2 separate regions of the Homo sapiens genome follow, and region 1 is linked to region 2. The links come from fine-mapping of genetic effects on gene expression. A gene starts in region 2. The other region holds a variant in brackets. All regions are shown on one strand. Distances are from middle to middle.

Evidence for each region.
Region 1: its variant is fine-mapped to the expression of CNOT1 in whole blood (TOPMed, PIP above 0.99).

Annotation. Positions count from the first base shown.
Region 1 is chr16:58,549,283-58,554,660 of GRCh38, forward strand. It overlaps CNOT1 (CCR4-NOT transcription complex subunit 1), which reads right to left. Exons shown (of 49, transcript NM_016284.5): 22 at 4,500-4,578; 23 at 2,307-2,537; 24 at 1,850-1,990; 25 at 437-616. Among named protein-coding and RNA genes, the nearest start is that of SNORA46, 3.3 kb to the left of the region's middle. The variant C/A (reference allele first, on the strand shown) is at 2,183.
Region 2 is chr16:58,626,875-58,632,228 of GRCh38, forward strand. CNOT1 (CCR4-NOT transcription complex subunit 1) reads right to left here and starts at 2,952. Exons shown (of 49, transcript NM_016284.5): 1 at 2,854-2,952. RefSeq lists enhancers at 2,029-2,705, 2,706-3,381, 2,830-3,039, 3,330-3,819.

The DNA of each region.
Region 1 (5,378 bases), 78 kb before region 2:
TCTCAAAAAAATTGAAAAAAAAAAAAAAAGGGGGCTACAGCAAAGAGCATTATCATTATCATGAATAATATCCAGGGGAGAAAAAAAAGTAAGTGAAAAAAAAAGAAAAGGATGTACAGAGGGCGACACCATACAGAATATGCTAACCAATACTATGCTGCTTATGTATAACAGTGGTAAAGTTCTAAAATCATGCATGGCATGACAAAAACAATTCATAATAGTGGTTACTTTCAAAGAAAAGGCACAGGGTATGCCTATAAATTTAAGTTCTGCATAAAATTTAGTTCCATATAAGAAACAAAATCTACAGCAATTTCCAGAGGTACCTAATATTGACAATATATATGGAAAAATAGCAAAAATCCTACCTATATAATCAAATATTTCCAAATTCAAAGCAATAATTAAAGGAAATATAAGAACCAACTCTTACTTTAATGTTTCTGTAGGTCTCATTCAGAACCATCTTGTTAAATTCAGGATTCTTCAGCGTGTCAAGGAAGTTTGAATACAGGCTATGAAAGTTTGGCTCAATACTGACTCTCTTCATAACCAGATACTGTGAAACCCAAGGCATAAATTCTTCTTTCACCGTTTCCTTTAGCTCTTCAACCTAGCCGGTCAATACGACATGGGAAGCACAGAATTACACTATGATAAAATAACACTTGGTTTCTATGAACCATACTATACAGCACATGGCTCCTTGCAAAACTAACTAGATGCTAAAGAATGACTTTCCTTCACACCAGATAGATGCTATGAAGAAAAGTATGCTCAATTCCATAGTCAATCACAACTCAACCCATACGTGATTGGGACTGAAACATCTATGGCTATTTTCAGCTTTAAAATTATAAAACATGTAGTACCCCATCTCCACATAAATTACTAATCTATAAGCTGCCATTAACATACCTACAGTGTAACCAAGAATGGGGAAAATTCCAGAACTATGTTTTCCTAAATTTCCATCTACAGGAATCCTTAGCTAACTCTGGCGTTTCCAAGTACAGTTAGTTGACCCTTGAACAAGGATTTGAACTACATAGAGTAAAATTAAATGTAGATTTTCTTCTATTAATACCTCCACTACCTCGGAGACACCAAGACCTCCTCTTCTCCTCCTCAGCCTATTAAATATAAAGTTAAAGACCTGTATGATAATCCATTTCCACTTAACAGATGGTAAATATATCTTTTCTTCCTTATAATTTTCCTTCATAGTTTTTCTAGTTTATTTTATTCTTTTTTCTAGTTTATTTTATTCTAAGAATACAGTATTATATGCATATAAGATAGGTGTTAATCAACTATTTGTTTTATCACAGTAAGGCTTCTGCATGGCAGAAAAAATAGTAGGCTGTTAACAGTTAAGTTCTGGGGGAGTAAAAAGTTATAACAGGATTTGGCTACATACAGGATTGGCAACCCTAACGCCCATGTTGCTCAAGGGTCAACTATACTGTCTTACCATGTAATCTGAGGGGCAAGTAGCATGCATTCTTTATGCTTTTCACAAAGTTTGCCTCAGTTATTAGGTTGTAATAAATACTCTGAATAGTCTCTGGGAGAAAATGAGGTATGACTAATGACTAGTACAAATGAAACTTTCTATCACCATGAGAACATTAAGCTTATTTCAAAAAGCTTATAACTTGCTGCAAAACAAAACCTTAAAAACTGGTACTATTTAATGTCTACCAAACCCACTAGTTAAATATACATATTCCCTTTGAGTTTATTACCTCTACCTTTAAAGTGAGTATGTAAAAGGGCCAACTATACATCCTTTAGTCCATTAAGGAAAAAAGAAGGCATTTATAAACTATGACAGCATGCTCACCTTTTGTGTCATATTTGACTGTGAGAGATTATTGAAAATAAAAGCAATTTTCTCCTGGATATTTTCTGGGGGCTCCACAATTCTCTCAGTTTGATCTGTGGCCACAAGCAACGTATCTATATTTGTAGTATTAATAGAAGGCTAAAAAAAAAAAATAAAGTACATAAGGCAAATAAGTTGAAATGCTTCCCTGAAAAAAATCCAATAATGTATACAGATTTAGTGTTAAAAAATACACATGGTATGACTGTGTATTAGAAATGTAGGCAAGAATAGTGAACTATTAATATGTTTGCCTCTGGGAAATATAAGGATGGGAGATACAAAGGAAGA[C/A]ATGTCAGTCTTTTATATCTTTTTTAGTAGGCATGTGTTATGATAAAATTCTAATACATGTTCACCACTGATTATTACAATATAATCATAAATCCTGGAAGAGAAAAAAGATAGATCTACTTACTGGCACATCTTTCTTAAAGCTGACTCCAGTTGGCCTGGTGACCGTAACCGTTTTAGCAACAGTGGTAGTTGTTGAGGTGGTTACCATAGTGCTAACTTGACCAGCAAGAGGAGCTTTTGCTGGAACCTGGGCCTGAGCCTGGGCCTGAGCCAGTGCAATACTTCCAGGGGTTGTGATAGAGCCTTGCATTTTCACAGGAGGATCTCTAGACTGCTGTCCATACTCAATATACTAAAAGGGTAGGGAGAGGAAAAAGAGTTAACCTTAATTGCTAAGTCTGGATTATACGTCCCTCTTTTCTGAGAGGGTAAAAAACATGTCTGAGTGCTCTTTTGGTTCATCTAGCTCACATACTCTTTGCCCCATACCCTGGCACTAATACATAAGTAGATTCCATGAACTTCAGCGATAAAATCTTAGTATTTATGAGAGAACTACAGCAAAACAACTTCTAAAGAAGCAGCCCCAGATACCTGCATATAAATGCCTTTAAACTTCTTTAAAAACGCAAACTTTAAAAGTCTTAATAATTCATACAGGAAACTCATCTGTTTTCTAATTAGGCAGCAATGAGAAACCAAAGGCCTTAAAAAACAAAACAAAAACCATGGTAGTATGAGTTATTATCACAATAAAGCTGTTATTACGAAAAAAAAAAAACTCACTTTACATAGCCCATCCCCACAATTTAGAGTGATAAGGATCCTGAAGCTATTTCAACAGTCCTTACCTAGCAGAACTAAACCTACCAATTATGTATGCAACAGTTTTATTTTTAGAGGGACATTTCTCAAGTAGGAAAGAGTCTCAGAAGAAAGTATAGCCCTTTACGCTGATAAAGTACAGAAAGTGATGATCTCTCTCTCTCTCTGGCTATCTTGCTACAGTGGGTGCTAGGGACTAGTTTTGAGTGATCACTCCCCTGCCATCTCACTCTTTCTCCAAGTCTTTCAAGCTCTATATTCCTGTCTCTTAATTTGTCTCAATCCACTCACTTGAATGAATATACTCCACATTCCCAGAGATTAAGTCATTACAATAACCCTGCCCTCCTAATAAACCTAGAAGGATGAGGTAGAGAACACTGAACTAAATTAAAATACAGAATATCAAGTAGGTTCAAATTCTGATCTTCCTGATTCCTTAAAATAAGATCTTATAAAGTTGCCTACTGCATGTTAAAAATAAAGTCAATTAACCAACTTTCCTGTTCTATATAAACTGATGTTGACCAAAACCAAGACAAAGGTATAGATAATGCTTACCAATTAACCTAAAATCAGTCACTGAAACAATGCTTCTCAAATTTCAGTAATAATAACAATCATACAAAATGGTTTTTAAAATGTATATTCCTTACGTCTATTTTCCCAGGGACTGACTCCTTTTAAATAAGCATCTCAGGCGGGCGCGGTGGCTCACACCTGTAATCCCAGCACTTTGCAGGGCGGAGGTGGGCGGATCACCTGAGGTCAGGAGTTCAAGACCAGCCTGGCCAACATGTTGAAACCTCGTCTCTACAAAAATACAAAAATTAGCCAGGCATGATGGCAGGTGCCTGTAATCGCAGCTACTCAGGAAGCTGAGGTGGGAGAATCACTTGAACCCAGGAGGACAATGTTGCAGTGAACCAAGATTGCCTCACTCTAGCCTGGGCAACAGAGCAAGATTTCATCTCCCCCTCCCAAAAAAAAAAGAAAAACAAAACAAAAACCACACCTCAAAGGAATCTAACGAGGTGGTAAGAAGCCTGTATTTTTAATAAACATGATCTAAGTCTTATGTGTAACAGTTTTGGCTCATATTAACTCAAAAATTTCAGATTTTTATACACAAGATTCCCACTCCAATTCCCTTTTAGCATCAGGCAGGGTGTCTGTACTTTATCTAAGATAAAGATTCTCTTAGTAAAACTGTTTATTCTTCAACTGCATTACAGGTTAAAAGAATGAGTAAAAAGTTTTTGAGGTAAGCCTGCTACTTAGAAAAGATAATCCAAGAATGATTATTTTTTCATGTTCTCTTGTAAGGCCACAAAATGAGCAACCTCAACAAAAGATATGTGTACCTATATCATGCCAATCATTAAGAAATCTTAATGCCATTACTATCAAGTCTACAAAAAAAAGCCAAAATATTAAACCCTCCAAATACTACATAGCTATTTGGGTTTTAGTTACAGAGGGCACTTACCTCCTGTAAATGATGTGGAAATTGCATAAAGTGACTGATAGAAGCCAAATGCTGACAATACTGGGGATAGTCCTTCAATCTGCCAACAAAATTATTCTACCATCATTTCATGTCAGAACAGAAGCATCACTAACAAAATGTTTTTGTCCAAATGCTAATCTAGGTCATTTTTTTCCATCTTACCTATGAATAACTTATTTGAAGAAAATGTCAAAGTGAAGAAAACAAAAATAGAAGGAGAAAATACTTATGATTTTCACAGGATTTACATCAGAAAATACACTACCTCTGATTTTTAAAGGCTATATTTTACTTAAAAATAGATTAAAACGAGCCACTTCTCTGGAAACAATTCAAATTTTCACCAACATACGAATGGAAAAATAATTTGTAGTCAACTCATATAGTAGAATACTACACAGCTGTAAAAAAAAAAACAGACTACTGAAACGTAGTAACGTAAGTCTCAAAAAACTACATATTTGTATGACTCTGTGTAAATGGCATTCTAGAAAAACTTTAGAGATTATCAGAGATTGGAAGTCAGGGAAGGGGACTAACTACAAAGGGGAACAAGGAAACCTCTTGGGAGATAATGAAAATATTCTGCATCAGCCAGGCATGGTAGTTTATGCCTATAATCCCATCACTGTGGGAGGCAGGAAGATCACTTGAGGCCAGGAGTTCCAAAATATTCTGTATCTTGATTGTGGTGGTAGTTACACAACTGTATAAATTTGTCAAAATTCAAAGAACTATACACCTAAAGGGAAGACTTCTACTGTACGAAGTATACCTCATAAATAACCAACCAAAAAACCTCTGTTCTCATTTTAGTTTTCCTACCACTTATATTAAAAAAGAGAGGCTTTGGCTGGG
Region 2 (5,354 bases):
CATGTTGCCCAGGCTGGTCTCTAACTCCTAGTCTCAAGCATCCTCCTCCCTCATCCTCCCAAAAAGCTAGGATACAGGCTTGAGCCACTTGCCTGGGCCAAAAAAATTAGTCCCAAAATATGACAGCACTCAATTAGAATTATTGTGGACAAATTCCATTCTCTGGTATTGGGTACCAAAGACGTGTTTGTTATTACACAGAAAGAAATAATCAAGTTCATAAATTCAAACTGGTTAAAAAGAAAGCTTCTCGGCTGGGCACCGTGGCTCACGTCTGTAATCCCAGCACTTTGGGAGGGTGAGGCGGGTGGATCATGAAGTTAAGAGTTCGAGACCATCCTGGCCAACATGGTGAAACCCTGTCTCTATTAAAATACAAAAATTAGCTGGGTGTGGTGGCGGGCACCTGTAGTCCCAGCTACTCGAGGGGCTGAGGCAGAATTGCTTGAACCCTGGAGGCAAAGGTTGCAGTGAACCGAGATTGTGTGCTGCTGCACTCCAGCCTGGTGACAGAGCGAGACTCCATCTCAAAAAAAAAAAAAAAAAAAAAGTTTCTCATAACCAGATCAGAATCTATCCTAAAACATACTCAGAAAAAGTAACATGCAAGGTAATTTGAAATCAGACTTTAAAGCATGTTTTGAAAAGATGGCAAGCATTTCCATTTGTTTTCATAGCTTTTTTTAATGACTTGACTCCAAATAAGAAGGATGTCTTATTATTTAGCTTGACAACATCTATGTTAAAGAGACTAGGATCTAAACCCCGAAGAGAAATTCAGAAACTAGAAAAAAAGAAAATGAACCCGGGGTGTTAAGCTGGGAACCAAAAAGAGCACATTTCAATTCTTTTCCACCGTAATGCCACAAAACCGTACCTTAAAACTTCTAAGATTACAATCTTAGGTAAGAAAAGGAAATATTTTCAGTTACAAATAGACATGTCTTTGCGCCTTCATTCTAGACTTTTTTTTGAGACGGAGTCTCCCCGTCCCCCAGGCTGGAGTGCAGTAGCTCTATCTCGGCTCACTGCAACCTCCGCCTCCCGGGTTCAAGCAATTCTCCTGCCTCAGCCTCCCAAGTAGCTGGGATTACAGGCACCTGCCACCACGCCCGGCTAATTTTTGTATTTTTAGTAGAGACGCGGTTGTGACATGTTGGCCAGGCTGGTCTCGAACTCCTGACCTCTGGTGATTCACCTACCTTGGCCTCCCTAAGTGCTGGGATTACAGGCGTGAGCCACCGCGCCCAGTCGATTCTAGACTTGTTTCCACTAAGACTTGGGGAACCCACACTTGTTGAAAAGGAACTAACTCTCCAAACTAGTTTTATCAACATGCTATCATTTCAGTCAAAGCACAGCTAGCCACCTAAAACCATGTATCATCAATGCATATTCTCCTTAGACAAGGTAACAATTTGCAGTATCCTAAAACATAATTATTTAAACTGTTACCACATGTCTTCTTAATAGCTAAAATACTCTGCTGCCAATCTTTAAAAGGGTAGGAATACCAACCGGGACCACAGATCACTTAAGTATTAAACCCAAGTACCTATAGAAAAAAATTGTTCTTAATCTGTTTGACCTTCCTCCTAATATTTTACTTGCCTTCCCTCATTTTTTTAATCCATGTATTCCCTATTCCTATCAAAGGGGCTGTCATAAGGAAAACGTTCGGCATTGTTTCAAACAGTATAATTATATTCACTCAATCACTGACTTAAAAAAAAAAAAAAACCCAAGTAGTCACAGGCTATCGAATTGTAGAGAAATCGGCAGGGTAGGTTAAGCATTGTTACTCAGTTTTCAGGAAGAAAACAGACTTTATTAGAGTCCTAAGAAATGTGACATTTGATTAACTTCATGGGAAAAGTTTGTCATAAAGTTTATTTTAAATACAACATTTTCAAACGCACAGATGTCAAGCATTCTTTTTTAATCTACAAAGCTTACTCCTCGGGGAGTTAGTATCTGTGAGCCCTCTTGGGTGAATTCTGCAAAGGAGGTGGTACTGAAAAAGTATTATTTGTGTTTGGCCTTAAGTACCTCTACAAGACCTGCCGTGGATCTTATCAGCCTTGAGGCCTACAAGTGCTCAGCTCACTAGCGGGACACTTGTCCTGGGTGAGCAGGACCGCCACTACTGCAGACACCGGACCGAGTAGGTGGGGGCCAACTTCAAAGAAAGTGTGAGCGCCCAGGCGCGCGAGTGGAACAAAACCTGTAGCAAGTAATAAGGAAGTGCTTGCTCCCGCCCGCCCTTCCCATCCGGGGACACCCGAAACCTGGGGGGCTTTGACAACGTGCTGGGGGCGTAAGACGGGGAGAGTGGCAGCTCCGAGTACACGGAGAAGAACTGGAAACATGCAAAAACTCCAAACACGGTCCCCCCCGCCAGAAGCCCTAGGCCTCGGAAGCCGATGCCCACTGCAACCATCAGGGAGCAGAGACAGAAACAGTAGTTAAGGAGGTCGTGGAGGTCTCAGAGGGGTGCAACCCGCGCGAAGCCAGGCCCAGCGACACGAACTGCCGCCGCTGCCGCCCCCTGAGCCTCCAGGCCCGGGACAGAGACCACCATGGGTCTCACCCCGCGCTCTACCCTCCGCTTCCTGGAGCCTTCTCGCTGGCCTCTCATCTTCAGAGCGCGAAGCCTCCGAGAGCCGTGTGGAGAAGAGTCCGCCCTCTCCCGCCTCGTCCCACTTCCCCGTCCCGGCTGCCTCTCACTCCCTAGAGCTCCGGGAAACGCTTCCAGTGGCCCCAGGTCCACCCCTGTTCCTCCTCCCACCGGCTCTCGCGTTCCCAAGCTGACACCGCCACCCTACCCTAGCCCCTGACGCCAACCCGCCTCACCTCAGGCGGCTCCGGCAGCGCTGGACACAGGAAACTCCTGGGTCCCCGACTCCGGCTCTCCTCGACCCCCTCTTCGGTTAACTCCGCTTGTTTCTCTACAAAATGGCGCCGGAGGTCGCGCGCTCACGTCGCGGCCTTTCCCCTCCCCGTTCCCATTTCATCATTCGCTGCCCGCCCGAGGAGGGATGGCCCCAGAGCCAGCCAATGGCCGCGCCCCGCCTGTGGCTTCTACCCAATCACCGACAGGTGCCCGCGGATTTAAACCAATCACACTCTATCACTTGCAGAAGTCGAGGAAGAAATCAGGCTCCTGCTAGCAACTACCAATCCGGCCTCCTACTTCGCGGACTTTGGCCAATTGCCGCTCACCAGGCCCAGGGGACCGGAGTCAGAGCCCTCGCGCCTGCGCTCGAGGCGAGGGCCAATAGGGAGAGGCTGATAACTTCGATTTGGGGCTTCACGTACTTCCCACCTGCCCTGGAGGGCTGCGACCAGTGGGGCTTGGCATTGCCTTTGAGGAACAATAAATTATGGAAGGGGCCCATAACTCCTCGCCACCCTGCGCGGGAACTACTTTGAATTACAGTGAAACAGCTTTCCTCCACTTTCCTTCCTCTTTCGAAATGTCACGGTCCAGTAGACTTCGGGGATTCCCAACCGAAACAATCCCCTCCCCTAGTGTCCCTTTGGCGGGGAACGCCAGCCAGAAAGCAAGCCAGGTTGTGACTAGAGTTGGGGCGCTTTGCATCCTGGGATGTGTAGTCGCGCTCCTCTACCCCGTTCCCATCGCAGAAGTAATGCGTCTTCGTTCGTCGCTGCGCCCTAGAAGGAGCAGTGCATGCTGGGGGTTGTAGTCACCCAGGTGGCCACCTTGTCCTCGCTTGCTTCGCTTTGGTCAAGGGAACTTTCTGTTTTAGTTCTGTCTATTGAAGAAGGGACACCTTCCAGAGACGCCTTCCAGAGACGTAGGAGACGCAAGTTCTCTTCCTGGCTTAAGTCCTAGAAGCCGTCTAAGAAAGGATACCCATGTCCTTTGCTCTCAAGAGAAAAAGCATAGAAACATATTTTGCTATGGTTTGTTTGTTAACTATGATAGTTGGTAAGATTTTATACTCACCTGTACCCAAAAGAGAAAGGATTGGGAAGGAAGTGTTGACTGGTTAGCTCTATTACCTTTTGAAATTAAGGCCGGGCGCGGTGGCTCACGCTTGTAATACCAGCTCTTTGGGAGGCTGAGGCGGGTGGATCACGACGTCAGGTGATCGAGACCATCCTGGCTAACACGGTGAAACCCCATCTCTACTAAGATACAAAAAATTAGCCGGGCGTGGTGGCGCACACCTGTAATCCCAGCTACTTAGGAGGCTGAGGCAGGAGAATCGCTTGAACCCGGGAGGCGTGGGTTGCAGTGAGCAGAGATCGCGCCACTGCACTCCAGCCTGAGCGACAGAGCAAAACTCTGTCTCAAAAAAAAAAAAAAAAAAAAAAAGGCAGGGCGCTGCGGATCACGCCTGCAATCCCAGCACTTTGGGAGGCCGAGGCGGGCGGATCACGAGGTCAGGAGATGGAGACCATTCCGGCTAACACGGTGAAACCCCGTCTCTACTAAAAATACAGAAAAATTAACCGGGCGTAGTGGCGGGCGCCTGTAGTCCCAGCTACTCGGGAGGCTGAGGCAGGAGAATGGCGTGAACCCGGGAGGCAGAGGTCGCAGTGAGCCGAGATCGCGCCGCTTGACTCCAGCCTGGGCGACTGAGCGAGACTCCGTCTCCAAAAAAAAAAAAGAAAAGAAAAAGAAATTCAAACCTATCCCTGTGCTCACCCCTGTCCTCAGACTAGGCTCAGTAGGTGGTCTTCTGGCCATCTCTCTCATATTACCTCTCGTGCCCAAAAAAATACTTAAAAAAAATTATGGTAAGAAACACATGAAATTTACCATCTTAATCATTTTTAAGTGTAGAATACAGTAGTGTTAACTATATGCATATTGTTGTACAACAGATCTCTAGAACTTTTTCATCTTGCAAAACTGAAACTACATCTGTTGTTTAACACCTTCCATTTCCCCCTCCCCCTAGTCCCTGACAATCACTATTCTTCTTTATGTTCCTGAGTTTGATTACTTTAGATACCTCATATAAGTGGAATCATGCAGTATTTGTCTTTTTGTGACTGGCCTAGTTAACTGAGCATATGTCCTAAAAACACATCTTTTTTTTTTTTTTTTTTTTTTTTTTTTTTTTTTTTTTTGAGACGGAGTTTTGCTCTTGTTGCCCAGGCTGGAGTGCAATGGTGCAATCTCAGCTCACTGCAACCTCCGGCCTCCCCAGTTCAAGCAAGACTCCTGCCTCAGCCTCCCAGGTACCTGAGATTGCAGGCACGTGCCACCACACCCAGCTAATTTTTGTATTTTTAGTAGACACAGGGTTTCACCATGTTGGTCAGGCTGGTATTGAACTCCTGACCTCAGGTAATCCACCCGCCTCAGCCTCCCAAAGTGC